2 separate regions of the Homo sapiens genome follow, and region 1 is linked to region 2. Evidence: fine-mapped expression QTL. A gene starts in region 2. The other region holds a variant in brackets. All regions are shown on one strand. Distances are between the middles of the regions.

Region 1 (16,741 bases), 41 kb before region 2:
CTAAAACCTCTGTCTTGTGCCTTATTCTTGGAACCCAGGCCATATGAAAACCTGTCCAAAAAACAGTTGCAGAAGGCAGAAGGAGAGAATGAGAGAGAGAAATACAGTGGCTCAAGGAGCACTTTTCTCTCACTAGGTTTCCACTCCAGGAGTGTCTCCCACTTGGCCATTCTGAACTGCCTGTTTATATGTGTGGACGTCTGGACCACAGGGTAGGCTGACACTGAGTTCTACACAGCTCTAGTTTTACACCTTCTAATGGCTGAGGAAATCTGAAAATATGAAAAGATTAAGTTGAACCATTTAAAGCACTTAACACATTTTTTTTCTCATGAAGCTAAAAGAGCACAGGATAAAAACAAACGAAGAATATAACGTTAACAAAGGCCATCTTTTTAAACAGTGTTAACAAAGGCCATCTTTCTTCACTTCCCAAACTCATCACTAAACAACTGTCTCTAGGAGTGTTCTAGGGAGCTCAGTGGTTCTGTAAGGGTTTCAGATGATGATAACATTGGAGACAACCAGTAACTTATAGAAGCTGTAAAAACCCAAAAAGGATTAAGCCTTTATTTTCTCCCACAAAAGCACCTGAGAGTAAAAACACTCCTCTGCCCCAGGGCTTCAGAGTGTGCCATTTTAATTTACATGTCAGCATAACCAGTGAGCTTTCTGATTGCTACATTTATCATCCATGCAGAGACCAGAAATGCTGCTCTAAGCACTCATGCATATTTTTCCAGTTGACAAACCCTTGCTATCACATCCCTGCTGTCTTTTCAAAGTTGTGAGCTGGTTAATTATCCTTCAGGGTTACCTTCTACTCAGAACAAACGATACTGAAAAAAAATACTTACTCCCTCGAAAGAACACCATTGGCCAGAATCCCTTCATATCGACTGATCCCTTTGCGCTGAAGCACACTGATCTGGCCACCTAGTTCATCAGCAATTATTCCTGCATGGATGGCAGCTTTGCACAATAAAGAGGTCTGAAACACAGCAACATCATTATGCAGAACTTAAAAGAACACAGTTAAAATATAGTTGGAGTTTTCTATTTTGTTTCTGTGGTAATTTATAGTAGTGGCCCCAATGAATAAAGCCTTCCAATGGCCATGCCCTGGAGTTGTCACCTCCCTCACTGACTCTGGACCATGTGACTTGCTTTGTTCTGCTGCAGATAACAGGGCCTAGCTAACTGCTACACATGTGAGTGAAGCCACCTTAGACTCTTGAGCCCCAGTTAACCTGCCATATGATGGCAGCCACAAGAGTGATTCCAGGCTAAGGGAGCTTACTAATCCAATCCAGTGTGGGTGGAGGCAAATTGCTCACCCTCAAACTCATCAGTAAATAAAATGGCTGCTACTTTAAGCCACTAAGTTTTGGAGTGGCTTGTTAAGCAGAAATCGATAACAGATCCAGTTTCTTATACTTAGGCTATTAGACACACATGCCAAGTTATCATTTAAGAAGCTGAACTTTCAATTCCACATGTTCATTTTTAAATTAGAGATTTATCAAGGTACCAAAACCACAATGGTAATGACAGCCACAGAACATTAAATGGAACAGAAAGCTTAACGAAGTTCCTAGAGGGATGATGAGCAACTCAGGGCTGACAGCCTCCATCTCACTTCCTGAATCCCCTCAGGAGGCATCAAAAAGCCAGTGCCAGCTCAGCCCTGCGATGTTCAGTGTGAGGTCTCAGCAGGCTGCTGGCTGTTCTGACAGATGCAGCAGGAACAGCAGACTGGCTCTGATTTACAGGCGGTTGTGGGATTGGAATCGGCTCTGTCAGGAAGTGGCGCTACAGAAACGACTAGAACTTTCTATGGGGTGCCCAGGCCTGTGGGTCCCCAAGTGTAGACCTCTGTGGAAGAGTGTTAAGGCACTCAGACCCAGGAGTGAGGGGATAAGAAACATAATTTCCTAAATAAACCTTAGCTATGCTCCACTTCTTCATGACTATTAATGCCAACATAGAAAGGCAGCTCATGAAATTTATCTCAGTAACTGGACTCAAGAATTTCTCTTTTTGTTAATGACAATGCTGCTTACCTTATTTACAATGGAAAAGTTCCCTTAGACTTAAGTTACAACAGTATAAGGACTAATGAGACAAATCATATTTTGCAATATAGTTGCAATAAAGTTGAGAATTTTGTGATATTCAATTTAGAGAGTTCATATTTCCCAAACTAGATTAGGTTTGGCAAAGTGAGTCAGTTTTGCAATAACTGCTATCCTAACAAAAGAGAGGAAAGATTTCACCACAGAAAGAAAAAAAATGAGAATACTGAAACAGATGCAAATACTACCCTCCCTAATCTTGGAGGAAAAAAAGAATTAAAATTAGAAGAGAAAAAGATCGTAAAGATCGTACTCTTTAATAAGAATGCAGGTTGCTTTTTCATCTTTCCTGAATTTTCTGTATATTGTTCCTGAATTTTCTTTCATTAAAAAGCTTTCTTATCATCAGTTTGGACTCCTGGGTCCAAACAAAACAGAGGAGCCAGTTGAAGAGGAAAAGTCCTGAATTTAAATTTAGCAATTTATCTTGTCATCCTGGCTTTGCCTCTAACTCCACAAAGTATATGCAAGTCATTCCACTGCTCTTGACCTGGCTTCCCATTCCTCTGGACAATGACAAGCCTGGACTGGATGTTGTCTAGTGCATGGGTCCCCAAGCCCCCAGGCTGTGGACTGGTACTGGTCAGTGGCCTGTTAGGAACCGGGCCACACAGCAGGAGGTGAGGAGTGGGCAAGCACACATTACCGCCTGAGCTCTACCTCTTGTCAGATCAGCAAAGGCATTAGATTCTCACAGGGGTGCAAATCCTACTGACAACTGCGCATGTGAGGAATCTAGGCTGTGTGCTCCTTATGAGAATCTAATTCCTGGTGATCTGAGGTGGAACACTTTCATCCTGAAACCATCCCCCACCCCGTCTGTGGAAAAACTGTCTTTCACAAAAGTGGTCCCTGTTGCCAAAAAGGTTCGGGACTGCTGGTCTAGTGTCTTTTCTGAAGGTCTGTCACCTTGTGATTCTAAAGGGTACCCAGTACACCGTTTATATTATAGGACCCATGCAGGCCTGTCTCCCTCGCTAAACCCCAGAATGAAAACCAGATCAGTTCAGTGGTCTGCTGAGCAGCTATTCCCACTGTCCTTGGGATCCCCGGTCTTCATACTAGGAACCCTGCCTATTGAGAGCTCTCACTGGACTTGGCATGTCCCAGGGCCTCCTTGGCTGTAAGATGACAGGTTCACAGGCCAACGAGCAACAGGATCTAACAGCATCATTGGCCAACAAATATTCTCGTTTCTCACAGTACCCAGTATTGAAGGAATTCAATGGTGAATACCTTTTTTATAAAATTTTTATTTAATTGCAGCTATGGCTTTCCATAATAGGTTGATGCAAAAGTAATTGTGGGTTTTGCCATTTCTTTTAATATTAATTGTAGGCTATAGGATACATCTCCAAAAGACTAGCCATCAAGTCTCACTATCATATTATTATGATAAAATTACCAGCATTTTCCAGGATTATTTTCTTTAAAATAGTCACTCCCTCATCCATCCAACTTAAAGGAAATTGATGTTTATTTGTCACTTTTTTGGTACTGATTTTTAAAATTCACATTTATTGAACCTGATTTTTGAAAATTCCCTTTTGAACAGATGGTACAATTTATACTTTTATTTTCTAGCTATTTTGAAGTCTAAGTCTCACTGAAATGTAAATATTGGAAAGCCATATTACTTAACCCATGTACATGGGTACATATTACCTAGCATATGTACCTAGCCTATGTACATTCTGCTCTGTAGAGCAGAACGTCTCTACAACCAGCTGGGCAGAATTTGCTGGAAAAAGAAAAATAAATAATTTATATTTTATTAAATTACACAACCAAAAATACTAAACTGTACTTAAATACTTTCTGTCCTCCGTATAATATCTTGCTTTAACGGCAAATTAGAAACCTGATTTGTGAAAATATAGATTGATCTACAATGTTCATCTGAAGGCAACTTTTACACAATAATTATTTGTTTCATATAAGGATTCACCATAAAGTCTATTAAACAATGAGCTTCCTGGCTGGGCACAGTGGCTCACACCTGTAATCCCAGCACTTTGGGAGGCCAAGGCAGGTGGATACAAGGTCAGGAGGTCGAGACCATCCTGGCTAACACAGTGAAACCCCGTCTCTACTAAAAATACAAAAAATTAGCCGGGCATGGTGGCAGGCGTCTGTAGTCCCAGCTACTCATGAGGCTGAGGCAGGAGAATGGCGTGAACCCAGGAAGTGGAGCTTGCAGTGAGCCAAGATCACACCACTGCACTCCAGCCTGGGTGACAGAACGAGACTCTGTCTCAAAAAACAAACAAAAAACAACGAGCTTCCCTAATGCATTTTACTTGATTCTAAGAGGTTCGGCTATCCCTGACAAATGGTTTTAATTAGTAAATTATCTTAAACAAAATATACTTAAACAGAATAATGTAAATGTAATAATTCTTTAGGAAAGGGAATGCAATGGCCAGCTGAAGAGAATACCTTCATGCCTCAGGCAATTGCAGGTGGATGGCATTATCTACAATAAACATTTCTGAAGTTCACTAAGCCATAAATGATGGCCAAACAGATTAGTGTGAACTAAGGCTAAACAACTTTCAAGCAACTATCAAATCATCCCAGAATTTTCTTAACTCTTCCTTTAGGAAAAATCAACTTGTACTAAAACAGTGTTGGCAATGTTTTAAAAGGAAGTGTAACAAAAAAGTAAACATTTTAGGTTGCATTTAATAAAACATGAACCAAAACCAGTAAGGTAGAATAAAACACATGCTTAAAAATGTTGGTGGAATGATAGCAAAATGTTAAATTATCAAATATATTCCCCTTTCCATCATATGAATTATTTCTGTGCTGTTACAGTCCTCCTAATTACCATGTCAATAATGTTTTCTTCACAAAATGTGCATTCTTTATAGAAATGCTGGAAATAATGAAAAAAAATCACTCATATTGTCATTACCCAGAGATAATCACTTGCCATTATAATGTATTCCTTCTGGCTTTTTCTGGGTGTGTACAAGAGGCCCAGTTTCTCCCCTTCTCCTCCTAAACTGCAGCGCACTACATGTTTACTGTCTCTATTTTACAGTACTTCTTGAACATTTTGGGGAGAGGAGAATTGCTGAAACAAATTAATTAAGTGATATGTTCTGCTTAAAAACAGATGGTTTAGTTAGCAGGCTGGGGAGAAGGTGCCAAGAGAAAAACTGTTCTGGGGGCAGGTGAGGCAGATCTTAAGAGAAGCCCATATTCCTTCACTGGCATTGGAAACATACACCAATTTGGATGCCTTAATTTGTCAGTAGGAGACAGAATTACAGAATCTCAAAAATTCAAAAAGGACTTTAAAGTTCCCCCCTCACACCTCCTGACAGACCACCCCCATCTCCACTCTACAGCACCTTTCCCACACAAAGACAGTCTATCCCTGACAAATGGTTTTAACATCTACACCTGACATTTTCAGTGACTAGGAAATCACTGTTTCTCGAGACAGCCTATCCCATTTTGCATTGTTCAATTATTCCTTATATGCAGCTGAAATTGGCATCCCTGTAACTTTTATCCACTGATCCCAGTTCTGCCTTTTGGAGCAACACAGAATAAACCAATGCCTTTTCTATAATAGCTCTGTAAGACAACATATTCTTCCCTGAGACAGGGTACCTCCTTCTTCAACAGCTCCTCTAGTTATTTATTTTACATATTCTGTTATCCTGACCTATAGGATATGCTTTGGTTTTGCAAAGATTCTTCTGAAAAGACTTGCTACAACTGAACGCATTTCCCAAGATGAAGGCACTGTGGAGGCAGACTCTAAGATAACCCCCATGATCCCTGCTCCCTGTATCCCCTCTTGTGGAATCCCTCTGAATCCCCCTGAGTGTGGGTGGGGGCTGAGATTTTCTTCTAAGTCTATAAGAATACGGCAAAAGTGATGGGATACCACTCCCATGATAACATTATATAAGAGTGTAATCTATCTTGCTAGGAGATCCCTTTGCTCAAAGACTCTCCCTTGTTTGCTTTGAGGATGCAAGTGGCCACGTTGGGAAGGTCCACATGGCAAGAACTGAGGATGGCCTCCAGCCAAAATCCAGGAAGAAACCGAGGCCCTCAATCCAATAACACACAAGTAACTGAATGCTGTCAACACCACATGAGCTTAGAAGCAGATCCTTCCCCAGCTGAGCCTCCAATGAGATTGCAGCCCCAGCTGACACCTTTGTTGCACCTTTATAAGACCCTGAAGCAGAGAACCCAGCTAAACCATGTCCAGTCTCCTAACCCACAGAAAATGAGATAATAAATATGTGCCACTTTAAGCCTCTAAGTTTATGGTAATATTATTATGCAGCAATAAATATCTAATACATCCATGACATTGACATACACAAAAAAGGCACTAATCCGAGTTCTTTGAAGAGAGTAGCTTTCAAAACACAAAATTTCCTTGCAGATAAAATCATTCTAAAAGCAAATAGTGCAAAATCAGTTAGTGGGTCAAATAGGAAACCTGTTTGCCAGCACTTAGGGATCATGTACTCCCATCTACCATGCAGGAAACCATTTACCTGTTATGCTAAAAAATATAGCTCTGTCAGGAGGAGGTAAGATAAATATCTACATTAAGAAAAAACTATGCTATTTCTCTTATTGTACATAATTCTTACATTTCTTGCATAGAACAGGAAAATGATAAATAAAAACTTTCTATTGCTGGGAAAAAATGTCAACTTTTTATTTCTCTTAATTCCCTGTAGTCATTTAAGAATTGCCTGAGCCAAGTAAATCTTCAAACTGAAATAGTGTAAAACATTTTAAGAGTCAATTTATAGGTCAAATGAGTATCCAGTGTCAATCTTGTAAATAAAAAAACAGAAAAGGGGAACGAAAGGCAAAATAACAAAATCTGCTGTTCCCAGAATCAGAATGTGCTAAAAGAGAAAATCACAGTCAAACTTTTTCCCTATGCCACAGAGGATTTATCAATCACCTAGAACAAGTAGATAAAGGTTATTTTCCCACAGGCATAAAAATACACGTTAATAACTTTAAGAACAGTTTCACAACAATAGGTTTTTGCTATAGATTTCTAATAACTCAGGCACTTTCCAAAAGCTAGGCTATAAACCCAACTACTTCAAATAGCAATGTAAATTTTTAAAAAATCAGATACTAGATTTCTGTAAATAGAAACAAGTGGAGGATTATGTATCTGAGATACAACATGCAGGAACAATGTATTACTACATAACCCAGGTAGTCTTACTGGACATAAGAACTTGGTTTGCAAAGAGAAAGGCGAATAAGAGCAGGGTGGATGGCTTCACTGGCCCCAGACACAATGTCACTATTCTATGATACGAATATTCATGTCCTTTGCTCTATTACAGGAACCAGTTGGAATGTTAAAGAAATAAACCATAACAAAAAGGATGCAAATCTATAACCTCTTACAAAAAGTGGATGGAATAATACTCTGAGATGGCAAAGTTTTTTCATTTCATTTATAGTAAGCTTAGCTGGAAATGCTAATAGGAATGAATGCATGGGTAACCTTGGTTTTTATACTTATTTCATTTATTCTCAGAGGAGAGAGACTCATGCATCTATCTAGAGTTTTATATCTCATTTGACTTTACTCAGTAATTAATTTAGGCAGAGTAAAGCACTTACTCCTTTTAATTCATTCTCTGCCATTACCCTCAATTACTTACATCTCTATATCCATCTACCATATTCCCAGAAATGTCTCCTGCTACGTCTCTACAACCAGCTGGGCAGAATTTGCTGGAAAAAGAAAAATAAATAATTTATATTTTATTAAATTACACAACCAAAAAAATTAAACTGTACTTAAATTTTTAAAGTATTTTCTGCCCTCCATATAATATCTTGCTTTAATGGCAAATTAGAAACCTGATTTGTGAAAATACAGATTGATCTATAATGTTCATCTGAAGGCAACTTTTATACAATAATTATTAGTTTTATATAAGGATTCACCATAAAGTCTATTAAACAATGAGCTTCCCTAATGCACTTTACTTGATTCTAAGACTTCCAATAAATATTTTTCAGAAACAGGAACATTTCTAAACATTATATATAGTATAATCTTGTTTCTATAAGAAATGTTTAAAATATGTAACAATTTTGTTTTCTATGGATAAAAAAGACAAAGAAGAATATCCCTAGATTCTCTCTGGGAGTAGGATTGTGAGGAACTTTCACTTTCCGTGTTATACATACTGTAATATTGCCATAATATTAGCACTGTCTGATAGAAATATAATGGGAGCCACATATACAAATTTAAATATTCGAGTAGTCACATTTTTAAAAAGTAAAAAGAAATATGCAAAATTAATAATATATTCTATTTAATCCAGCATGTTCAAATTTTATCATTTCTAAATGTAATAAACAGAAATAAATACCAATAAGATATTTTCTCTTTTTTTGATTTAACTTCCAAAATCTGGGGTGCATTTTATACAACACCCCTCAATTTGCACTCACCACAGTTCAAGTGCTCATTAGGTACCCGTGGCTAGTGGCTACCGTATTAGATGGTCTGGCCTACATTAGTTATGAAATACTTTTGCAATCAGAAAAAAAGGATATATTTTAAAATTAGGATTCCAAGGCCGGACACAGTGGCTCACGCCTGTAATCTCAGCACTTTGGGAGGCCAAGGCGGGTGGATAACCTGAGGTCTGGAGTTTGAGATCAGACTGGCCAACATGGTGAAACCCCATCTCTACTAAAAATACAAAAAAATTAGCCCGGTGTGGTGGCAGACGCCTGTAATCCCAGCTGCTTGGGAGGCTGAGGCAGGAGGGAATCACTTGAACCTGGGAGGCGGAGTTTGCAGTGAGACCAGATTG[C/T]GCCACTGTACTCCAGCCTGGGGACCAAGAGCAAAACTCCGTCTCAAAAAAAAAAAAAAAATTAGGATTCAATTTACTTAACAGTCATTTTTCAAGAAACTTTCCAGAAACATGTCATAGTATGTGGTGCAGCTGAAGGGTGTCAGTGTTAGGAGCAGAGTGACACAGGCTCCAGCACTACCTAGCTAGCAGTGGGACCCTGATATTGCATATAATCTCTCTTAGATTGTTTCTTCATCTCTAGTCCCTTCAAGTGTCAACATATCAACAAGATATGAAGACAGCTATAAACATCTATAAAAAACACACAAAAAGGAAGCCAAAGTATTATAAAAATGTTGTCAGCTTTGAAGATGCATGCCATGTGCCCTTACTTCTATATAGACACCACTTTACATAATGTTTACTTGGTTTGTTTAAAAAGAGTGTACCAGCCCAAACAGATTCCAGAATAGAAGTTGTTTTTATTTCATTTCCTCTCAGTGTCCTCCTGCTGCCTTGGCAAATTATATATGTAACAACTAATTATCAAAACTATCCAAATAAATATTCCATAATTTTTTCCCATTGACCTTTTGGAGTCCCTGCATTGCAGCAGTACTCGCGGAATTAAGAAATAAAAATAATGGGAATTCCCATTACAGGGTAACAATTCCCTAGAGCCAATTCCCTTAGAATCAGCTGTATTTCAGAATTCAGAATTTCTTGGATTCTAGAAAAGTAAAACAGTTCTAATGATGTATATGATGTAATACGCTGGTGGGGTCTGCACACATTAATAAAAAACATTAAAATACTTGTGTCAAATGCCTTAATAATCATATTAAATAACATATGTAAAGACATGTTAATCTAGTCCAATTTTGCTGTCAAACGAATTTAAGGTCACATTAATCAAGAATCACCACCAAATGAGTTACAAAAGGCTTTCAAAACTTTCTATACTTCATAATTATGGATGAGGGCTTGTGGACCTGTATCAGTCACCAGGCCTTATCTTTAATCTAAACACTACAAAATGGCTGGGCTAAAGCTGAGATAATCTGGCACCATAATGCCACCCTGTAAGCTTGGATATATTCCCTTTCTTTAGGAGAACAGGAAATGACCATTTGATGTCCAGAGGCCCTATCACCAACTGGGACTGTAGAGGTATAGCTATAATAGATAATACTGGCATATGTGTATATTGGATGAACAGTAACTTTAAAACCAATATTTAATTATCACTCATTTTCATTTTTCCCCCTATTAGACATAATATTAGTTAACACTAGAGTTGTTTCTGCACATAAAATAATCTCATTCATTAGAATGTCCAAATGTCTGAGATAGGACCACAGGCTCTTAAGTCTGACTCCCAGGCTACACTTACGAGGTGTGTAGCCCTCAGCAAGTCTTAATTGGTTTGTACTTTGGTTTTTAGGATGTAACAGAACCTTCCTTGCAGACATGTTGAAATGGTCACAAGAGCTACTTACTCTGTGCTAAGTGCAGACAGCTATATCGAGCACTAGGAAAGCACTCTAGAGAGTCATAGCTGGGTGCCATGATTCACACTTGTAATCCCAGCACTTTGGGAAGCTGAGTCCAGAAGTTAGAGATCAGCTTGGACAATATAGAAAGACACCCATTTCTAAAAAAATTTAAAAATTAGCCAGGTATGATGGTGCACACCTGTCGTCCCAGCTACTTGGGAGGCTGAGGCAGGAGCATACTTTGAGCCCTGGAGTTTGAGGCTGTAGTGAGCTATAATTATACCACTGCACTCCAGCCTGGGCAAAAGAGCAAGACACTCTTTCATAAAAAGAGAAAAAAAAAAACAGTCATAGTTTTTGTTAGTGTTGTTGACAATGATCTCTAGACTAGTGGCTCTCCACTGGGGGCGATTCTGCCCACCATGAGACATTTGGCAATGTCTGGAGACATTCTTGGTTATCACAACTGACATCTAGGACATAGAGGCCAGGGATGCTGCTAAGTATCTAACGACGCACAGGACAGCCCTGCAATATAAAGAATTATCTGACCAAAATATCAATAGTGCCAAGGCTAAGAAATTCTGCTTTAGACTGTTTTACTTGATAGATGAGCAAATGTACATCAAAGTGACTAAGTAGTTTTTCCAGCTAAAGCTGGGTTGAAAATTTTCATCTTATTTGCAGTAGGTTTTTCTCTAGTGGTAAAGACAAAATGCACCTCCTCCCAAATGAAAGAATTTTAAAGGTCACTCCCAAATACCAGCCAGGAAAAAAAATACAGTCTAGACTCGGTAATGATTCATTGGCCCTATAGTGGAACTCAGGGGTCAGCAAACTATGGCCTGTGAGCCAAATCCGCCCTACTGATGTTTTGGTAAATACAGTTTTATTGAAACACAGCATGTCTGTTAGTGTATACATGGTGTCTATGGTTGCTTTTTTGCTACAACAGCAACAGAGATTATATGAATAAATGCAACAGAGATTGTATGGCCTGGAAAACCTGAAATATTTATTATCTACCCCTTGACAGAAAAGGTTTGCTGACTTCCTGCTATATAACAAACTATTTCAAATATTCCTCATTAGTTACAACATGAATGGTAAAAAGAGCTTTAAGTACAAACGTATCTGGTTTAACGTGAAAGAAAACAAAATGTTCAGCAATACACGACTGCAACACAGTTAGGATACCTATACTTACCTGTATTCTGTCTTCAAATAATGGCTAGCTCGTTCCAAACATGTTATTAAATCTGTCATAAATAAAGATAATTGCAATTAATAGAATGAATAAAAACTAGGACACTCATGCTGCAAAGCTTTCTTTTAAAATAAAAGAGTTTTTAAAAAGCATTTATTCACTATGTAGTTATCAGAATTTTCCTTTTAAAAATAAACACTGAGAATCACTGTCTCCAGTATTTAATGAGTTCCTTTCGTTTCTTTTTTCTGCCACCAATGACAGTTTTTCAACACAATCACCTAGTAAATGATAGCAGAATCTGTAGTTAACAGAAAAAAACAATACTCTTTAGTTGCTATCCACTATATGCCTATGAAGACCATGTGTATAATGTCCCCTGGCAGGAAGAAAATAATTTCAAAAGCCCAACACAGTTCACAGAGAAGGTTCCCACAAACATTTTAATTCAACAATTTAGCCAGTGGCATCTGGTGACAGAGAAGCACATCTTTACCAAGAAAACCTACAGCATATAAGCTTTCATCAACCAGGACAAAGCATTTTAAAAAAGAAGGTGCTCTCTGGAGTAATTTACAGAACCAAACTAATATTCAGCAATAGAGGCTAAGATACAGTGGACCTTGATGCATTTAGATCAACATAGTATGGTTTCCAAAATATTCCACACTTACTGTAATAGTTCTTTGGGAGCAATATATGGTGAACACTGGCAATGCAGGCATCTGCTGTGATTAGTCAGAGCTGATTGGCTAAGAGGAAAATGAATGGCGCACCTCACTCCCAGAGCTTTTCTGCCAGAGAGGACTGACAGCAGAAACCTCTATGACCATAGGCAGATTTGGTATGGGCTGCACAGAATTACTCTGAAGCACAAGAGCCCAGGACAGGAGCCCGTGCTTCTCTCTCTCATCAGTGTTCGTGTTTCCCTTCCCTTCTCTCCCATACAAGTTTTCAGCTTTAAAGTTATTACACTGTGTGACACTGACTTCCTCATCCTACACACACTGTGCATGCCTCCCGTGCTGGTGTACTGGCGTGTGTTGCGGAGGGGCTCACTGGTGAAAAGCGTTGCCCCTGAGCTAGGGAGGAGGATGGGGGAGGGCTCCAGAGAATAGTGAAGACTTCGAAGGGTCAGGAGGGGAACACAAAAGTGTGTTATCCAAGGTTTTTAGGAAAAATGAGATGAATCCTATCCCATATAAGTCAACTGATCAATCTAACATGCTAATAAGCTTGTCCAACCCATGCCCCTTGGGCCACATGCAGCCCAGGATGGCCTTGGATGCAGCCCAACACAAATTCCTAAAGTTTCGTAAAACATAATTATAAAAATTTTTTGCAAATTTTTTTTAGCTCATCAGCTATTGTTAGTGTATTTTATGTGTGGCCCCAAGACAATTCTTCTTCTAATGTGGCCCAGGGAAGCCAAAAGATTGGACACACCTGTGCTGCAATATGATTCAGTTCAGACCTAACCATTTACAAAGATACCATGTTCCTCTTCTCCCTCATATCTTAATTCTGCATCTGAGTCCACAATTATGTCCAGGGATGGGGATAAGTGGCAAGAGGAATTCTTAGACAGATAACATTTAGAGATTTGTGTTGATTCTTCCGTTATACCTGGATGGTCGCTGCTCGCATAGGTCAGCAAAAAACCCCGGCCAGAAATGTGGGATCCACTCTCAAAGCGGACGGTTACTTCACTTGTGTTCAACAAGAGTTCTTTGGGAACAGTCATACTTCCACAGTATGGACCTAAAAACAAAGCACACTTGTGGCACATTTCAAAATTTATACCAGCACAAATGACTGGTATATGGCATTTTTTTCCTTGAAAGGCCAAATTTACTAGACAATACATATGTATGATTATAATCTTTACCAACTGAAATTTAGCTTGACGCTCAGACTGATAATTTCTGACTGATTGTGAACTAAGCCAAGGGGGAAAGTGGCTTACTCTAGACAAGCAATAGGCTGGAACTAGTTAACTGTGAGCAACCCAAGAGATAGGTTTTGTTTTTTGTAAAAAGAAGACAAAGGTCAAACACATTAGGTAGTAAAGAAAATTTTATTACAAAAATGTTATTCTAGGGGCCTCCTAAATTTGCTCAAATAAACTAAAAAAATCATTTTTTCGGGGAAGTTTTAAAGTTAAAAGACTTTGCAAAGCATGGTAAGAATTTTATTCACATGCAGCATTCACATGCAGCATACACACTGATTTTCCTTTACAGTAACTTCTGGTTAATCCCCAAAATTCATTTTGATTTATAAAATGTACATAAAAGCAGAATAATTTCTAAAGCATTTTGAAATATTATAGTACAAAATTATACAATTAAGGGTATAACATTGTTTCCAAAATAAGTTGCTTGAAAAGCAATAGGGATCTCAATGAACTTTCAAAGGGCAAAATTACATTTGGAGCTTAAAATAACGAAAACTCTTCCTAAGACTACTCAAACTGAAGTTTAGCTTTTAACTTGTCATTTCGAAAGTAACATACGCAAGACAATCTCTATGAAATAGAGATTAGCAAGCAAATTTTGAAGAGAGGTATTATTTATTAACTTTTCTCAAAAACAGTATGGAAATAGTCAGCGGCAACAACAATCATGATGAAGGAAGAAGAATAAAAGAAAAAGACTGCTCCAAGTCAATACGAATAAAACCGGGTTATATTAACCAGAACCAATAGGGACAAAACTGCTTGATATGGTTTTGCTGTGTCCCCACCTAAATCTCATCTTGAATTCCCATGTGTTGTGGGAGGGACCTGGTGGGAGGTAACTGAATCATGGGGGAAGGTGTTTCCCGTGCTGTTCTCATGACAGTGAATAAGTCTCATGAGATCTGATGGTTTTTTAAAAAAGGAGTTCCCCTGCACGAGCTCATTTCTTTTGTCTGCCACCATATGAGACATGTCTTTTGCCTTCTACCATGATTTGAGGCTTTCCTAGCCATGTGGGACTGTAAGTCCAATTAAACCTTTCTCTTGTAAATTGCCCAGTCTCAGGTATGTCCTTATCAGCAGCATGAAAACGGACTAATACAGTTAAGTTGGTGCCAGTAGAGTGGGGTGCTGCTGAAAAGATACCCGAAGATGTGGAAGTGACTTTGGAACTGGGTAACAGGCAGAGGTTGGAACAGTTTGGAGGGCTAAGAAGACAGGAAAATGTGGGAAAGTTTGGAACTTCCTAGAGGTTTGTTGAATGGTTTTGCCCAAAATGCTGATAGCGATATGGACAATAATGTCCACGCTGAGGTGGTCTCAGATGGAAATGAAGAACTGGTTGGGAACTGGAGCAAAGGTGACTCTTGTTATGTTTGAGCAAAGAGACTGGTGGCATTTTGCCCTTGCCTTAGAGATTTGTGGAACTTTGAACTTGAGAGAGATGATTTAGGGTATCACGTGGAAAACATTTCTAAATAGGAAAGCATTCACGAGGTAACTTGGGTACTGTTAAAGGCATTCAGTTTTATAAGGGAAGCAGAGCATAAAAGTTCAGAAAATTTGCAGCCTGACAGTGCGATAGAAAAGAAAATCCCATTTTCTGAGGAGAAATTCAAGCCAGCTGCAGAAATTTACATAAGTAATGAAGAACTGAATGTTAATCCCCAAGACAATGTGGAAAATGTCTCCAGGGCATGTCAGAGGTCTTCAAGGCAACCCTTCCCATCACAGACCCAGAGGCCTAGGAGGAAAAAGTGGTTTCCTGGGCCAGGACTAGCATCCCTGTGCTGTGTGCAGCCTAGGAACTTGGTGTCTTGTGTCCCAGCTGCTCCAGCTATGGCTGGAAGGGGACAACGTAGAACTCGGGCCAGGACTTCAGAGGGTGCAAGCCCCAAGCTTTGGCAGCTTCCATGTGGTGTTGAGCCTGCAGGTGCATGGAAGTCAAGAATTGGGGTTTGGGAACCTCCACCTAGATTTCAGAAGACGTATGGAAATGTCTGGATGCCCAGGCAGATGTTTGCTGCAGAGGCCCTCATAGAGAACCTCTGCTTGGGTAGTGCAGAAGGGAAATGTGGGGTCAGAGCCCCCACACAGAGTACCTACTGGGGTACCATCCAGTGTAGCTGTGAGAAGGGGGCCACCAGACCCCAGAATGGTAGATCCATTGCACCTGAAAAAGCGACAGACACTCAACACCAGCCTGTGGAAGCAGTGGGGAGGGAGGCTGTACCCTGCAAAGCCACAGGGGTGGAGCTGCCCAAGCATGGGAACTCACCTCTTGCATCAGCATGACCTGCATGTGAGACATGGAGTCAAAGGAGATCATTTTGGAGCTTTAAGATTTGACTGCCCCACTGGATTTCAGACTTTCATGGGGCCTGAGCCCCTTTGTTTGGCTAATTTCTCCCCATTTGGAATGGCTGTATTTACCCAATGCCAGTACCCACATTGTATCTAGGAAGTAATTAACTTGCTTTTGATTTTACAGGCTCATAGGCAGAAGGGACTTGCCTTGTCTCAGATGAGATTTGGACTGTGGACTTTTAAGTTAATGCTGAAATGAGTTAAGACTTTGGGGGACTGTTGGGAAGGCATGATTGATTTTGAAATATGAGGACATGAGACTTGGGAGGGGCCAGGGTCGAAATGATAATGGTTTGGGTGTCCCCACCCAAATCTCATCTTGAATTCCCACGTGTTGTGGGAGGGACCCGGTGGGAGGTAACTAAATCATGGAGGAAGGTCTTTCCCATGCTGTTCCCATGATAGTGAATAAGTCTCATGAGATCTGATGGTTTTAAAAAAAGGAGTTCCCCTGCACAAGCTCTTTTCTCCTGTCTGCCACCAGGTGAGACGTGCCTTTTGCCTTCCACCATGATTTGAGGCTTCCCCAGCTACGTGGAACTGTAAGTCCAATTAAACCTTTTGTAAATTGCCCAGTCTCAGGTATGTCCTTATCAGCAGCATGAAAATGGACCAATACACATGCTAAAGAGTCAGAAGATCGTGACCCAACTAAGCATTGCCCTTCTGGTATAAAGGATCCAATTTCTCTCTGTTTCAAGTTTCACATACTGAAGATGTGATAGAATAAGAAAGAAATG
Region 2 (16,741 bases):
TGACTTCTTTTCTAACTTTTTCTCCCCTGGATAGGAACATATGATGGGTATCCTTGGAGACAAAGGGCAGGAAACCATTTCAAGGCATTTAGAATTGTAAGATACGTGCCTGGTTCCCACTTTGGGCACACAAAGTAAATGTGTCTTGGGTAAATAATTATTTCTCTGAATCTCAGTTCCCTCAATAGCTCTCAGAATTGTTGGGATTAAATTCGATGTAAAAAACATACAACGATTCAAAATACATATGAAGATAGAGGTTTAAAATTTGTCTATATGAAAAATCAGACTGGACAAGCAACAACAGTGATTGGATGCTTAAACCATACAGTGAATTGTTGACAGGGAAATACTTTTACTGAGTCAGAAACTAACATTCCAAAGATTACTTGTAACTCATAGAGAGACGGCAGTTTTATAATGGAGAGATCGATGTATCACTTCCTAAAGTCACTGGTGATTCTGAGCATCACTAAAAGTGGAGCAATAATCACAACAATAATAACATATGCGTCCTATTGTGATACAATTAGAAGTACATAGCACCTTTGAGTACTTTTACCAAAAACACTTAGTCTGAATCTAATCGAGTCTTTAGGTCAAATTTCGGGCTTATACAGAAATACAGGTATAGCGCACCAAGTAAAAGATAAACTACTCTGAAGCGGTGAGTACACTTTAGGACGTGAGCTGTGTCACAGAACAACTGAACCTGGTTTCCTCGCAGGAAAAGAAAAAGTATGTGGGTGGGGGTCAGTGATAGATTAAAAGTGACTAAAGAGACATAATAACTAATATGTAGACCTTGTTTGGATCTTTGTACAAACCAAAGGTTAGAAGACATGTTTAGGATAGCTTGGGAAATTTGAATATGACTTGAGTATTAGATGATATTAAAGAAAAACTATTAGTTTTCTTAGGTGTGCTCATAACATTGTGGCTATGCAAGAAAATATTTAGAGATTCAAATGAAATAGGAAAAAAGTCAAGAAATCCTTAATAAATTTTTAGTTTATTAATAGATTTTGAAGTCTCAAAAGACTTGTAGACCCTTCTGAGCTGGCAGTGACAGTAGGTACAGGGCCATTTTTCTGTCTGCAATAGGCCATCTCCTATTTTAGTCTCTTGGCAAAGCAGGAGCTTTCCAGGGATCCCAAAAAAATGGTGGGCGGAATGGGGGCAAACCTTGGTTCATTTTATTCTCAAAATAAGCAGCCTCCATTCTAAAATCCTCAGAATGGAAGCAATTCAAATATATGAATCTCATGTTCCAGTGGTCCCATGGGTCATTAAGCCTCTACAGTTTTCTCTTTTGGGCTGAAATCAACCACATTTTAATATGAGGTAAACTTGCTTTTGTGAAAAGCAATAAAAAGGCTGAATTAAATCCACTCAGCCATTTAAAAGTTAGGCAACAAACACATAGATGTTTATCTATTTTCCCTGTAGGAAATTTTATGCCTTGGTAATTCAAATTTAACTGGACATCACACTTTTAATATCCTTTTGTCTTGTTTTTTGTCAGAAATAATAGTGAAATAAAGTTTTTCTTTCCTTTGTTTTTCAAGAATACCGTGCTTCTTAAAAATCATTTACACTCAACCTTTAAGCACAATCACTAAACATGCTCAAATGCAAAAATGGAGCTATACATATTATTAGTTTGCAAGGATTTTAATTTTGTGAAGAAAGAAAACAAAGACTATTCTTTTTCAGTAAATGTAAATATGTTGAACACTGAATAAGAAGGCCACAACAGCGGTTATAATTTGAGTTTGAAGATGCTGACTATAAAAACTAACTTGGGTCTCAATAAACTCCAAATAGTCTAATAATGAACAAGCCTGATCCATTCAATACAAATTAAGAATCTCACCAAAGAAGGATTAAAAAAATACACCTTACCTTTCTGATACTTAGTATGTTTAAACTTATGTACTTTTCTCAAATAAAGTATGTATAGGCAAATTATTTGACTCCATTAGTAAGAGAGAGTAATTTGAATAATATAAAACAAAAACATTGACGAGACACATCAATTATAAGTTGGCCTGGACAAAAATTCCACTTTCCTATTAGATATTTCTCAGTAGCAATAAATGACTTAGAAATAAGTTTTTGGTTTACTTCAAGGCAAATTCTAAAATAAATATAAATATGGAATTTTTCCAAGTAATAAAAAACTTTCAATGAAACACAGATTTAAAAAATCAGAATATAAAAGCATACACAGACTAGGGAGCAGAGGGGGGAACCCAGGTATTAGTTTTATTGTTGTTCTTTATACCTTTATTTATAGTCTATAATTTTGTGTCTACACAATATTTAATAAAAACAATAGTAAATGTGTGTGTACACACATGTATTTGCTATAGGGGTGTGTGTGTGTGTGTGTGTGTGTGTGTGTGCATTTACATAAAAATATATAGAACTAAAACATGTCCTCAATGGTTCTATGTGTAGCATTTTCCATGATTATGATATATCAGGACAATGTTATTTATGGACACCCTACTTTGTTTCACAACTGTTCTGCTTCTGTTGTAAGCATTAGGGAAGATCATTGGGAAAGTAGGGAAGAAAGCTCCAACCTAAGAGAAATTTATTCTTTTTTTTTGAGACGGAGTCTCGCTCTGTCACCCAGGCTGGAGTGCAGGGGCGTGATCTCCGCTCACTGCAAGCTCCGCCTCCCGGGTTCACGCCATTCTCCTGCCTCAGCCTCCCAAGTAGCTGGGACCACAGGCACCCGCCACCACGCCCGGCTAATTTTTTGTATTTTTAGTAGAGACGGGGTTTCACCGAGTTAGACCATGATGGTCTTGATCTCCTGACCTTGTGATCCACCCGCCTCGGCCTCCCAAAGTGCTGGGATTACAGGCATGAGCCACGGCGCCCGGCCTCTTTTTTGTTTTTTAAAAAAGCTCAAGCACAGCTCTATTTTTAAAAGGGGGGTGGTATGGGGGTAACACAGAGCTACTTAAGCTGTTACCTCATTTCAGTATTATCCTTTGCAGCTTTTCCTACAAAAAAATCTACCTAGCCTAAAATTATTGTTGATATGGTTTGGATGTTTTGTCCCCTCCAGATCTCATGTTGGAATATGATCCCCAATGCTGGAGGTGGGGCCTGGTGAGAGGTATTGGATCATAGGGACAGATCCCTCATGAATGGCTTGGCACCATCCCCTTGGTGATAAGTGAGTTCTTGCTACTACTTCACACAAGAGCTGGATGGTTAAGAGCATGTCTCTTGCTCTGTCTCTCACTATGTGATGCACATGCTTCTCCTTCACCTTCTGTCATGACCGCAAGCTTCCTGAGGCCCTCACCAGAGGCTGAGCAGACGCTTATGCTATGCCTGTACAGCCTGCAGAAACTTGAGCCAAATACACCTATCTTCTTTATAAATTTCCCAGCCTCAGATATTCCCTTACAGCAACACAGAACAGACTAATACAATCATATATAATTATATACAAGACACAAGGCATTTCTGCAAATATTGGGTATATTATTACACAGCATGTAGCTCCTAAGGAAATAGCTAATAACGAGATTAATAAATCAAGTAGAAATGGCAGTAAACAGTAAAGTCATACACGACAATATGGCTTAACACAGTGCTGATGTCACAAATGCCTAGACACTGTCCCCAAATGATGTTTGAGGTGAAGTAGGCCCCTGATACCCTAAATGTATAAGCATTAGCAGACCATAGGGGACCCCCGGTCTAAATCAGTGGATCATTTGCTCAAGACTGCCGGCCCCTCACTCATGGCAGTTTTCCTGCTGTTGCCTGTAAAAGGGTCTCAGAGATTCCCGGTTCTTTTCAGAGTTGAATTTAGTTATTTTCTTTTTGAGACAAGGTCTCACTCTGTTGCCCAGGCTGGAGTACGGTGGCAGCATCACAGCTCACTGCAACAGCTGCCTCCTGGGCTCAAGGGATCCTCCCACCTCAGCTTCCCTAGTAGCTGGGATTACAGGCATGTGCCACCACGCCCGGCAAATTTTTGTATTTTTTGTAGAGTCGGGGGTTTCGCCATGTTGCCCAGGCTGGTCTGGAACTCCTGGACTCAAGTGATCTGTCCACCTCAGCCTCCCAAAGTACTGGGATTACAGGAGTCAGCCGCCCTGCCCGGCCTAGTTATTTTCTTAAATACCTGCACAGTGTTTCCTAACGCTCCACAATAGTCATATATACAATTTCTGTTTAAAATAACATGAATATTATCCTCCTTTCAATTTTTTCAAACCTCAACCACAGCATTCATGCGCTGACTCAGGAACTAGTAGTTACCCGGAGCCTGCTATGTGCCAGGCACCGTACTGGGTGCTAGCGGTGAAAGAAGAGGCTGAGATTCATCTCTGCTTTCATGGATCTTAGGGAATCCTCCAATGCTTACCCCACAATCCCACAAAACCCCTCCTCTTCAACTCCCATTGAAAGGCAAGTTTGACAGTTGGTTCTAGATTCAGCATACCAGCGCTCACAGTCACGACTCTATTTCCACATCGGGTAAGAAGTCATCACATGCGTTTGCTTTATTTTTCCCATAAACTAAGTCTCCCTCACCCAGTAAGGCAAACAACTATTTTTTTTAACATACAAAGCAGACAATAAACATCTGGAAGATAACATCCACATGACTCCTCAGTTTGGAAAAAGGCAAAACTACTCCTCAGTCTAATGAAAAAAAAAAAAATCTGAAATTCTGGCTGTATTTTTCCCTTCACCCTCAATGCCAAATTTCTAATATGCCAGAATGAATTTCTCTATTTTACATACGTACTTTCAGACTTTTACATTCAACATTGGATTAGACATACAATTTCATTACTTTGCCGTGTCCAGGTTTTAATTTCTTTTCTTTTTTTATTTGAGACTGGGTCTTGCTCTGTTGCCCAGGCTGGAGTACAGTGGCTCAATCTCAGCTCACTGCAACCACTGTCTCCCAGGCTCAAGAGATCCTCCCACCTCAGCATCCCGAGTAGCCGAGACCACAGGACACCACGACACCTGGCTAGTTTTATTGTATTTTCGCTAGAGATGGGATTTCGCTATGTTGCTCAGGCTGTCTCAAACTCCTGAGCTCAAGTGATCCGCCTGCCTCAACCACCCAAAGTGCTGGGATTACAGGTGTGAGCCACCTCTGGCCAGTTTTGATTTCGTAACTAGAGTGAGGTTGAGTCTTACAGGGCAGGAATTGTGTTTTCACTGCCTTCTCACCCCATCCTCACTAAGCACCCATCCCCTATTGAGCTCCCAATATGGCCACTGTTCAAGGCACAAAACTCATAGACCTTATAATCTAGTAGGAGGAAGGCAGTCAATTTAAAGTGTAAATTATACACTTTGTTGGAAGAGGGTAAGTGCTCCAGAGCAGTGGTCACCAACCTTTTTGGCAACAGGGACGGGTTTCGTGAAGGACAATTTTTCCGTGTATGGGGCTGGGTTGGAGGGGGATGGTTTCTAGATGAAACTGCTGCACCTCAGATCATCAGGCATTAGATTCTCATAAGGAGCGTGGCAATCTAGATGCCTCAAACATGCAGTTCACAATAGAGTTCAAGCTCCAATGAGAATCTAATGCCCGGCTGATCTGACAGGAGGCGAACTCAGGCGGTAATGCTCCATTACCTGTTGCTCACATCCTGCTGTGTGGCCCGGCTCCTAACGGGCCAGTGACAGGTACCAGTCTGCAGCCCAGGGCTTAGGGATCCCTGCTCTAGAGAAAACTGAAAGCTAAGAAGGGGAATATGGAGTTCTGGGAATGAAGAGAGGGTTTCAAGTGCTTAGGAAAGTTCTCCCTGAGAGGACAACATCTAAACAAACACTGAAGGAGGAGCAAGCTTTGTGGATATTTGGGGCAAGACTATTCCAGGCAGAGAACAGCATGTGCAAAGGTTCTGAGGTAGAACAGTGCTTGTCATTTTGGAGAAATAGCAAAAAAACCAAACAGCTAGAGAGGCCTGAGTATGGGGGAGCATTTCAGGGAATGAAGTCAGAGAGGCAGTGGAGGAGACAGAACAAAGAGTCCTCAATATTTGTCAAATCAATAGTAATAAACAGTAATGAATACTAAGATAGCTAACATTTATTGATTTGTTTTAATAAAGAAAAACAACTAATTGCTCTAATACGTACAGAGTTGACTTTATGCTTTAAGACACATGTAGAAATAGGTGTAAACACTATGGGGTATATTTCCCAGAACAAACTTTTTTTCCCTGCTTTAACACAACTAAAACCTTTGCTAAATGCTGCAATTAAATTCATGCCCCCATGTATCTTAAAAATAAGACATAATTCCTCATAAATGTCAGATGCCTTACTAATTTCCAAGCTGTGGTTTTTTAAAATGATTTTCAAGTCTGTGTCAGTTCCACAAGGTTAAAGGGTTCAAATTGTAACATGAAAAGTTAATAAAAACAGTTTGGGACATTATTCAGAGTTCAAATTCTGCTTTAAACATACCATTTGATTTGTTTAATGAATTTTTTAACATAACCTCTTTCTTCTCTGAAATATTAATATATAACTCACTGTTTCTGAGTGTTACAAATTATATCTACTAGAGCCAAAAGATATTGTACATATTGTTCTGCTGGCATGTTCCCTTCTTTCTGCTGTATTTTCATTTAAAAGGCATCCTTACATATAGAAATAAGCATGCCAAGAGAGCTGGGCTTGATAAACAAAATTAATTAGTAGAAGCAGCAGATGTACACCTTTATAAAGAATGTCAGTAGGCTCTTTATTACTTGGTTTCCATTAGTTAGGAAGTCATTTGAAAATATATCCTAAACACAAAGAGATTGTTCAGTTCAACTCAAGGAACACTGAGCACCTTTGTCAGATACTAGGAAGACAAAGACTATATAGTCCCAGTCTCTGCCCTCAGGATCTTACAGTCTACAAGGCTAGCTGTCCAGATGAGACAACAGAAGGGTGAGTGCACACACTGGTACAGAAGGTGACAGAATAAATTTGTGCTGATTTTTAAAAAAGCCACTCACCTAAAACATCATCTATCAGCTGATCCTATGTCTAACCCAAAATAAATGACAGATGATTTAACAGCAGACCTTCTAAATAACAAATTAAGAGTTGGGCAGAGGGTTTTGAAGCAATTCTTAAGTATGCAAGATTTGAATCTACACTTGGAAGTTTCCTCAGAGATCAAGCGCTCATTTTGATTCTTCACTTAAATCACAAGGGAATACTTTAGCTAATAACCATTTGCAAATCTTGTGGTGGAGAGAGAAGCAGGGAGTTTTAGGTTGCACAAATTCATTACACAAATGAAGGGTATTTTATTCTACAAAAATGTATATCAAGGTAATAAATTTGGACTAAATCCAAACCTACGAATTTATACAAGTGGAATAAAAACTAATGATCAACTTAATGTCTTATTATGAAAGGTCAAAATTATGTGAAACAATCTATGTAAATATGTACCTTTAGTTAAACGGATCCAGAAGAACAGGGCATAAGGAGCCGAAATAATCCCAGCTCTGGCCACTAAACCCCAATGCCTGGACCTGGCTGGCTGCAAACAACGGGAGGGGTGGACACTTTTTTAAAACTTTAATTCAAGAAAAACACCAGATAGGCAAGCAGTTGCCCTACAAAGGACCCAGTATAGCTTTATGGGGTCACCAGACTCTGACACACAAAAAATTAATTAATTGTATTGATTAGGCTTATAAACATTCAGGTTAAGTTATACCATTTGTTTCCTAAAACCACACAATAAATAAAAGTCTAATACGAAATTGCCTATAACACAGATGGTAGCATTTTATCACAACCCTAACATTATAAAATTATAAAGATTTGAAGCCCAGTAAGAATCTAAGCAACCACACATGCCTGTAGTCCCAGCACCTTGGGAGGCCGGGGTGGGTGGATCACTTGAGCTCAGGAGTTCAAAACCAGCCTGCGTAATATGGCTAAACCCTGTCTCTACAAAATATACAAAAATTAGCCAGGTGTGGTGGGATGCACCTGTAGTGTCAGCTACTCAGGAGGCTGAGGTGGGAGGATTGCTTGAGCCCAGGAGGTTGAGGCTGCAGTGAGCTGAGATCGTGCCACTGCACTGCAGCCTGGGCGACAGAGTGAGACACTGTCTCAAAAATAACAATAATGATAATAGGTTTTTAAAAAGAATCTAAGCAATCACACTTGTTCCTAGAGAACCGCTCTCACAAAGTGCCCAGTTAACAGCCTGGATGACCATACAAAATCTAAATCTTTATTGGGAAAGATAAGTGACAGCTTTGGCCAGATTAGTACAGGAACATACTGCTGGACTGATTCTCACAGACGTATAGTATTAAAGGTGCACCTTCAAACTGTGAGTTGAGAAAAAAATAAAAATATTTAAAACATCCATTATAAAAGTCCTACGCATTTAACAAAATCTTACGTATTTATTACAATTTTACAATCTGCCTAGTATTGTGCTACAGTACCAGACAAAATCACTTTAGGGTTTTGGGGATTTTGTTTTTTTAAACAAACTGGTATGTAATATAAACTTAGGAACCACCACCACCATCTCGAGTATCAATGTTTCAGAATGGAGGCATAGTTCAGTGAAAAAAATGCCGGCATTGGTTTTAGTTTTGATTCTTGTTTCACCAGAAAGCATGGTGGTTGGGGGAGCTGTCAAAGTACTCCGGATAGACTCAGCGCCATTAAATAAGCTCAGGCATATACGGCCAGGAGCAAGGGAGGAGAGGAAACACTGAAACAACTCGGCAGAAAGCTGGCCCTTGCTATTAAAAAAAAAAAAGCACTAATTAATGAGGACGAATGAAATAGGGACACCCAGGGCTGGTAAAGGGGGTTGCTGCTTTAATATGCTGGACAGGCAGAGGGTAAACTCGGTTGTGGGTTAATTAGGTCTAACTCCAAGTCAAAGACCAGCTCCAGAGAAAAAGCAGCCTGGTTGAGAGTCTACCGGCTCAAATACACAGGAAGCCACACGATTCCAACTTGCGGCGCCAGCAGGACACTCGAGAGGAGGTGGCAGCACCGCCTGCTCGCCAGCGTCCAAGGCCAACCTCGGCAAACGTGCCCCGGCCATTCCGCACGAGCCCCGAACGCACACGCCGGGATTCCAATTCCGCGCGGGAGGAGCGACGGCAGGGAGGGCAGGGCCCAGCGCCGGCCGAGGAGCGGCTTTGTCAAAAGGCAGCTGGAAAGAACTGGCCCTGCACACGGCTGTCCCCTAAGGCGACCCTCGGGGTCAGGTCACTTCTCACGGGGCCAGCAGAGTCAGGAAGTCTGGAAACTAAGTGAAATGGGCTGGGGGGCGGCGGAGAGAAAGTGCAGAGACGCCAGGTTAATTCTCTGGTTTTGGGGGAAGGAAGGAGTTTGGTGGGGGAGCGACAAGGAATGCAGTAACCTACTTCACCCCCAGCCCCGCGGGTAGAGCCGGACTCCGCGGATGGCAGGCGGCGAGCCCGACTTCCTCCCGCGCTCCGTCCCCCCAGGCCCGGCCCGCCCCGTAGCCCTCGGCCCGGCCCGGCCCGCCCCGCAGCCCTCAGCCCGCCCCTGGCGCCTCGGGTCCCGCCGCCAGCCGGACGCGCTCCACTCACCCAGCTCCTCCGCCTGCAGCCGGAGCGGGGCGGAGACCGCGAGCAGCAAAGCCAGGAGGCCCCGCCCGGCAGCCCGCGCCAGTGCGCCGCCGCCGCGGGCGCCGGGCACCATGACCCCGCTGGGCGCCAGCTTGGCAAGCTCGGCCTCCCCTCGACGGATCCCGAGCCGCAGCTGCCCGGGCCGGGCCGCCTCCTCTGCGGACGAGCGCGGCGCCGGGACGGGGCGCAGTCGCTGCCCCGCACCGAATCCCATTGGGGCGGCTTTCAGCCCAGCCCTGCGGGGGCGTCTCCCGCCCGGCCCCGCCCCGCCCCGCACGTCGGCCCCTAGAGGAGGAAGTCGCGTTCCCAGGCAGTGACCGACGGCGAAGCCGGAGGCGAGCGAGGCGCCGCCCGCGCTCCCCTCCACGTATCTGGCGCGCCCTGCTGCGCTCCTTCCTTGCCTTCCTCCCCACCTGCACCAGTACACGTGAACCTGCTAGGCAGCAGGACACCTCGCCGCCGGACCCGCCCCTCGCCGCGTGGTGCGGGAGTCATTCCTAGATGGGCTGAGCCCGCGGCGGTGCCTTGGGAGGCTGCCCCCTCCAGGGTTTTGCCAGCCCGCGGGGATGGGCATGCCAGGGATAGCAACACCGAGGGACTCGAAATATTTTGATGATAGGATGATGACAGTGCCAAGTAGGACCTTCACTGATTTATTCACTCATTCATTCATTCATTCAAAAGTTACTCAGTTCAGCAGTGTGCTTGTCAGGAGCAGGGCTAAACCCATGTGGCACTTGCAGACAAAAATAATCAGGCAAGTATTCAATGCAAATTGCAATCAGTGACATGAAAGGTGCTGTTGAAGCACATTTAGAGAGCTGTAATTAGATGGCGGGTAACAGGGGTGAGGGCGGGAATCAGCTAGGAAAGGCCTAAGTGGCATCAAAGCTGAGATTAAAGCAGGAGCCAAAACAGACAAGTTGTGCAAAGAAGCTGAAGGAGGAAAGGGCCAGGTAGCTGGAGCACAGTGAACAGGTGGGTACACGGCCAGATGTAGAAGCTAGTGTACAGAGTAGGGGCCAGGACGTGCAGCTAAATAACCTAAAGGATGTTTAACTTGGTCCTCGGAGTAGTGAGCAGCCACGGAAGGTTCAGAAGGGGGAAGGACTCCACCCGATGATCCTCTTGAGGAGTTGCGGAGAAGGGTTTGGGGAGGACAGATTGGAGACTGGAGAATTACAGGGTTATCACCGAGTAGTTGAATAGGGTGGTGGCAGTGGAAAATGACGAGGACAGATTAGATATGTATTTTAAGGACTATCTCACGTCTCTGGTCCCCTGTAGTCCCCGTTTACTTCCTCTGCGCGCTGCCCTCACCTTCGCACCACCGCGCGGCACGCTGAAGTTTCACCTAGAGGTGCAGCGCAGGGAAGCGTGGAGGCGGAGAGGAAGCAACAGCCCCTCCAATGGCAAACATTGGCCCCTCGTGATCTTTGGATACCCTGGACAGACTCATTTCATACATGCGTTCCTTTTTTCCTCTTCCTTTTCTTTTTTTAACTAAATAAACAAGCTGATAAAATCTCAAATGAGATTGTCTTTGGGGCTTTGCTTTCTCTGAGGCAGCATATCTTAGATGAAAGAACTTGGGCTTTAGAAATGGAGGGGATCCCGGTTTGATTCTGGACCTCAGCTTTGTTGAAGAGCTGAGGTCCAGAATCAAACTGGGTATATATGTGTATATTCAGTGTATACTGAATTTGTATATTAAGTTCTATCATGTAGAGAAAGTACCTAACTGAATGTGTATATTGGGTTCTAGCATGTAGAGAAAGTACCTAATAAACGGTAGGTTTTATCATTTTTTAACAGAAAGTAAATTCACACCCATAAAAATATTGAGTATTCTTACACTCAAAAACACAGAACGATACTTTGATACGTTGAGTCTCCTCCTAACTTCAGTTTTCGCTTTTTCTTATTTCTCTTCATTCTTTCTAAGTGAGTTTGGGCAGCTGCTTCCAGGCTCCAACAGGTTTGACACTGTGAGCTATGAATGAAGCAAAGACAATGGGGAGTATTGTTTAACAGTGAGGAATTCATAATGTGAGGCAGGTGGGCTTTCAGGGGTGACTTTTTTTTTTTTTTAACTTCAGTCAGTACCTTGATGGGAATGGAATTATCTGCTGTACACCTGAATCCTGAGCCAGATAAGGGGAAAGATTTAGGATCTGGTAACAATGAAGAAACAGAAAGACCAGCCAGATCCTATTGATTTCATCATGCCATTCCTTCCTTGAAATGTAAAATCTCTAGTTAAGAAAGTCATAATAAAAGAAAAAAGTGAAAATACAACAGATTATAAAATATATATACTGGGGTGTGTGTGTGTATACATGTATATGTATATGTATGTATCATTTTTAGAGAAAGGGTCTTACCATGTTGCCCAGCTGGAGTGCAGTGTCTATTCACAGGCCTGATCACAGTGCACTACAGCTTCCAGCTCCTGGTCTCAGTCCTCCTGCCGCAGCCTTCTGAGTAGCTGGAACTACAGTATATTTTTCTATACAATGAAATAAGCCTTGTTGAATTAATATACTTGTTTTAATCTTGAGACGATTCCACTTTGATTTTTTAAAATGATGCATGATGGAATCTAAGAACCAAGTTCCATTAAGAAAAATTATGCTTATTAGGATCTACCTATAAACATTTCACATACTAAGATGGGAAATATCTCTAGGGAAGTGTCTCTCATAGGCTATTGCACTTCTAACCCATCCCCCCACTTGCCATCCAGTCCTTATTTTGCATATCTTACTGCAATTTATGCTTACATTTGCCAGCTCTTCTGTAAAAATACATAACAGCTGGTCAGGAGCTGCCTTATTTTATATTATAAATTATGTGTTCTGTCTTGCTTAGGTAAGACAGAATTTAAACAGAACTGCAAACCTAGCATGATTCTAAACAGACAGCTTCAAAATAGATTGTAGTCCAGTTCAATGACCTAATTCAATTTATCCTTAACATTTAGTAACCCTGCCTGTGACTCTATGAAGAAAACTATCAGCTATAAAATTGAAGCCCTTATAGATGTCTGATATGGTTTCAATCTGTGTCCCCACCCAAATCTCAAGTTCAATTGTAATTCCCAATGTTTTAGACATTTTCCATATGTGAAACAATGTGACAGCAGTACAATAAAAATAAATACCTTCTCTTCCTGATTTATGATCTAATAATAAAAATTTGGGAAAGTTAATTATACAGACAAAATGAATTATATCGATTGATAGGCACAGGGATAGCAGAGGTACAGGGTACCATGGAATCACAGAAGAAGGGCATATAACCTGGATTTTAAAAGTCTGGCAGGGCCTGGGAGAGGTGAAGATATTAATTAGAAGGAAAACAATGTTTGTCAGACAAGGAAAAGATATTATTTTTAAAGCTCAGAAACAGAGATCACAGGGTGCTTATGAAGATTGAACCTGGCCAGGCACAGTGGCTCACACCTGTAATCCCAGCACTTTGGAAGGCCAAGGCAGGTGGATCACCTGAGGTCAGGAGTTTGAGACCAGCCTGGCCAGCATGGAGAAACCCCATCTCTACTAAAAATACAAAAATTAGCCAGGCATGGTGGTGGGTGCCTGTAATCCCAGCTACTCAAGAGATTGAGGCAGGAGAATCACTTGAACCCAGGAGGCAGAGGTTGCAGTGAGCCGAGATCATGCCATCATACTCCAGCCTGGGCGAAGAGCGGGAGCGAGACTCTGCCTCAAAAAAAAAAAAAAAAAAAAAAGATTGAGCCTACATTATCAGTGAACTTGAGCCTGAATACAGAGTGGGAGGCAGAAGCAGGATCTCAGGGTTCTGGGGGGTAGTGGGAAGCAGGGAAAGTGTAGAAACTTGTTCAGATTTGCATTGTAATAGGTGTCAAGATTACGGCAATAGAGGAGCAATCAGGCTCAACTTTGAATTCAGGGATTCAGTGAATCCAGTGGGCAGGGTGAGGGAGTCCATGATGAAAAATCACTAGGAGGAGACATCGGGGTAGAGGGGATTCTTGTAAACTGGCTTAATGGGATTCTTGCTGAATGCAGGTCAAGGACTTATATGTCAAAGATAAGGGAGGAGAAACTTGATCCAATACAGAGGGTGGGGTATTCTCTCTGAACTAACTTAGCAGAATTCTTGCTAAAGCTGGACTAGGCAGGCCAAAGACAGGGTTCAAGGACAATGCCTAGATAAAAAGAAGGCTCAGGGGAGCTTGACTGTTTGGTCACAGAGAGTCTTTGTCACCCCCATGTGGATATTTTTGCCACAAGCACTAAACAGCTAGGCTACAAAGGTCAGACCCCTCCCTCCCTGTGGCAGAGCTCAGCAGGGCACAGTCAACACTTTCCTCCCAAAGTGGCCTTTCTCTAATTTTCATTTCTGATAAAACTTACCATTGTCCTACGATTCCTTCTTTAGGCATGCTATTGAGGCAAGCATGCCTCTCCTATCCAGGCTTTCTCCCTTATTCCGTCATTGTGTTTGATTCATTATTCACTAATTTACGGTATCACTTTCCAGGGCCAGCCCTATTTTTAAATTCTAGTTGCCTCTGTACTACATGCGATACATTTGTGTCATTTCAAGAAGTAGTTTTTGAAGAAGTTTCATATACTTGATCTGAGTTGGTTCTTATGACAACCCCAGGACAGCTGTTTCCTAATTGTGTTTCTCTTTCTCTTCTTTCTCTTTTCTAACTTTTCTGTTAGGTTAACTGTTCACTCTTTCATCTTGCCCAGAGACCACATGTTGAAAAATGTCCTTGGGAGCTTGACCTTGTAACCATGTGGCAGTACTTTCTCTTGGTCTCTGCCATCCAGGGAGCAGGAATTTGGGGGTTCATGTCATAGTTATTCCCAAAATTTATGCCTTTGCAAACTCAAAATTGGTTGCTCTAGACTCCTTCTGGGAAGTGCAATGGAAACTTCCCAATGTTGTAGCTTAATAGTTAAGGCTTATGGGTTTCACCTGTGAGATTATTTTTGGTAAAGTTCAAAAGCCAGAAATATTGGCAGTTTGGCATGGCTAAAGGTGGTAGTAAGAGATTTAAAAGGACTTTAAAAAAAAAAAGAGTGCTATGGTGAAAAGTCCACTTAATTGAAAGTGGATATTCAAGTTCTAACAGCCTGGGACTCCTTGGGAAAAACAGAGGAGATGCCCCAGATCCAGCACTGGGAAAAACCTCTGTTTTCCTCAGAGAAATCAGTAATTGAAAGTGGATAGATCTCTCTCAAAATCTTAGGCTCTGTTCTGTTTTGCATTACATTGTGTTATCTGATGTTTTGACTCTTGGGTATCAAAAACTACTTTGTGTATAATAACTAGGTAGGAAATATACTTTTAGGAAAGGCTAATGGCAGTTATGGGCGAATACTTGACTCTTTGGTGTTTGGATTGGAGAAGTATGCTCTTGGCCACCTGGAAGGTATGCAGATGTGTCTCCCCAGCCCCCACACACCCAGAGATAAGACTCCTATGAGGGATGGGCTAATCACAGAATGGACTGATTGGCTTTAGATTGCTTTGCAATGAAATGCACAGTAAAATCACTGTACTGTCTTTTTCCATAGTGTTTCTCATTTTGGGGATCCAGGATCTGGTATAAAATGGGACCCTTAATTTTAGGGGAATCTGTTTTGCCTTCCAGCTGTGCCTGCTTATTAGGCTGTAGAAACTGCCTGTTTTCCTGTCCCTGTTCCACCCTGAAGCCAGTAATTCAATTAAGAAACACGGGCAAATGAAAAATCTTACAACTAGTAGATCTTCTTCTATTTATCTGTGTTGTGCATGTGATGTTTATATATACAGGAGCTCTAATTAATTGGCTTAAAAAATAATAAGTGCTTAAACCAAACATTTCGTCAGAAAAGTAAGAAGTGTAATGCCTTTTAGTTCACATAACTTAAGTAATCTTTGGGAAATAAAAACAGTTTTACATGCAAGTTGTGTAAGGAAAGTGAAATGTGTTTTTGGTAAAGATTATATAAGAAACCATGGGAATGTGGATTTTTTGCCTAGATTAAAAGGTTAAAGGATTGTTTTAAGTTAGATAGGAAAAAGCTGAAGATTTGGGCAAGTTGTGGAATGTTTGTGAAAAATTAATCTTGTAAAAGAAATTCTGTATATGAACATATTAGCTAAAAGTTAAAGGAGTATTATTTAGTTTTTTCATAAATTGAACATTGGAATAAAAGCACAACAGGTTTTTTCTTACAACACTAGTCTGCTCTGTCACAAAAATTGTAAAGGATTAGAAAAGGTTTATAAGAATCTTAGTGTTATGGTCATAATGATTAAGATTGGATAGATTTGTTTATAAGGTTTTATTAAGAATTAGGTTTGACATCAATAGTGCACTAAGGCAAGGGTAAATTTGGCTCTCTCTCTTGAACAAGATTTTCATGTAATATTTTAAAAAAAGAAAGTTTTTTGTCTACCCTTTTGAATAAACTGTAGAAAAAAAGAAAGAGACAGATTGTTTGGAAAGTTAAGTTTTCCCTCTATTGATGAGTAAACGTTTTTGTCTTTTAAAAATTTTTGTGGCCCGGCGCAGTGGCTCAGGCCTGTAATCCCAGCACTTTGGGAGGCCGAGGCAGGCAGATCACCTGACATCAGGAGTTCAAGACCAACCTGGCCAACATGGTGAAACCTGTCTCTACTAAAAATACAAAAATTAGCCAGGCATGGTGGCAGACACCTGTAATCCCAGCTACTCAAGAGGCTGAGGCAGGAGAATCACTTGAACCTGGGAGGCGGAGGTTGCAGTGAGCCGAGATCGTGCCACTGCACTCCAGCCTGGGCAACAAGAGTGAAACTCCAACTCAAAAAAAAATTTTTTTTTGAGCTCCCATTTTAGCTAAATGAGTGACTTTTGGTAACCTAGGATTTGATATTTGAGAAACTTTCCAAAATCAAATTGTAAATTGTGACTTTTTCTGATGCAATTAATCTTTTAGATATTAGGGGGTCACTGTCCAAAAATGACATTTGGCTTATTTGGTATAAAAATCATACAGGAAGCATTGTTAAATATGAAATGGTGTTTGGCTTTCTTTGAGTTGTATTGCATAAATATGTTACTGCTATGT

What was found. PIP is the estimated chance that this variant, and not a neighbour inherited with it, causes the effect.
Region 1: its variant is the best candidate, but not a certain one, in a credible set for the expression of DCBLD1 in esophagus muscle (GTEx, PIP 0.54).

What each region holds. Positions count from the first base shown.
Region 1 is chr6:117,516,510-117,533,250 of GRCh38, reverse strand. DCBLD1 (discoidin, CUB and LCCL domain containing 1) reads right to left here. Exons shown (of 15, transcript NM_001366458.2): 3 at 13,301-13,435; 4 at 11,675-11,726; 5 at 7,817-7,889; 6 at 858-991. Among named protein-coding and RNA genes, the nearest start is that of DCBLD1, 42 kb to the right of the region's middle. The variant C/T (reference allele first, on the strand shown) is at 8,990.
Region 2 is chr6:117,475,761-117,492,501 of GRCh38, reverse strand. It overlaps DCBLD1 (discoidin, CUB and LCCL domain containing 1), which reads right to left and starts at 9,828. Exons shown (of 15, transcript NM_001366458.2): 1 at 9,609-9,828. The coding sequence starts at 9,720. RefSeq lists enhancers at 8,793-8,842, 8,873-8,922, 8,933-9,012 and silencers at 9,373-9,952, 14,311-14,360.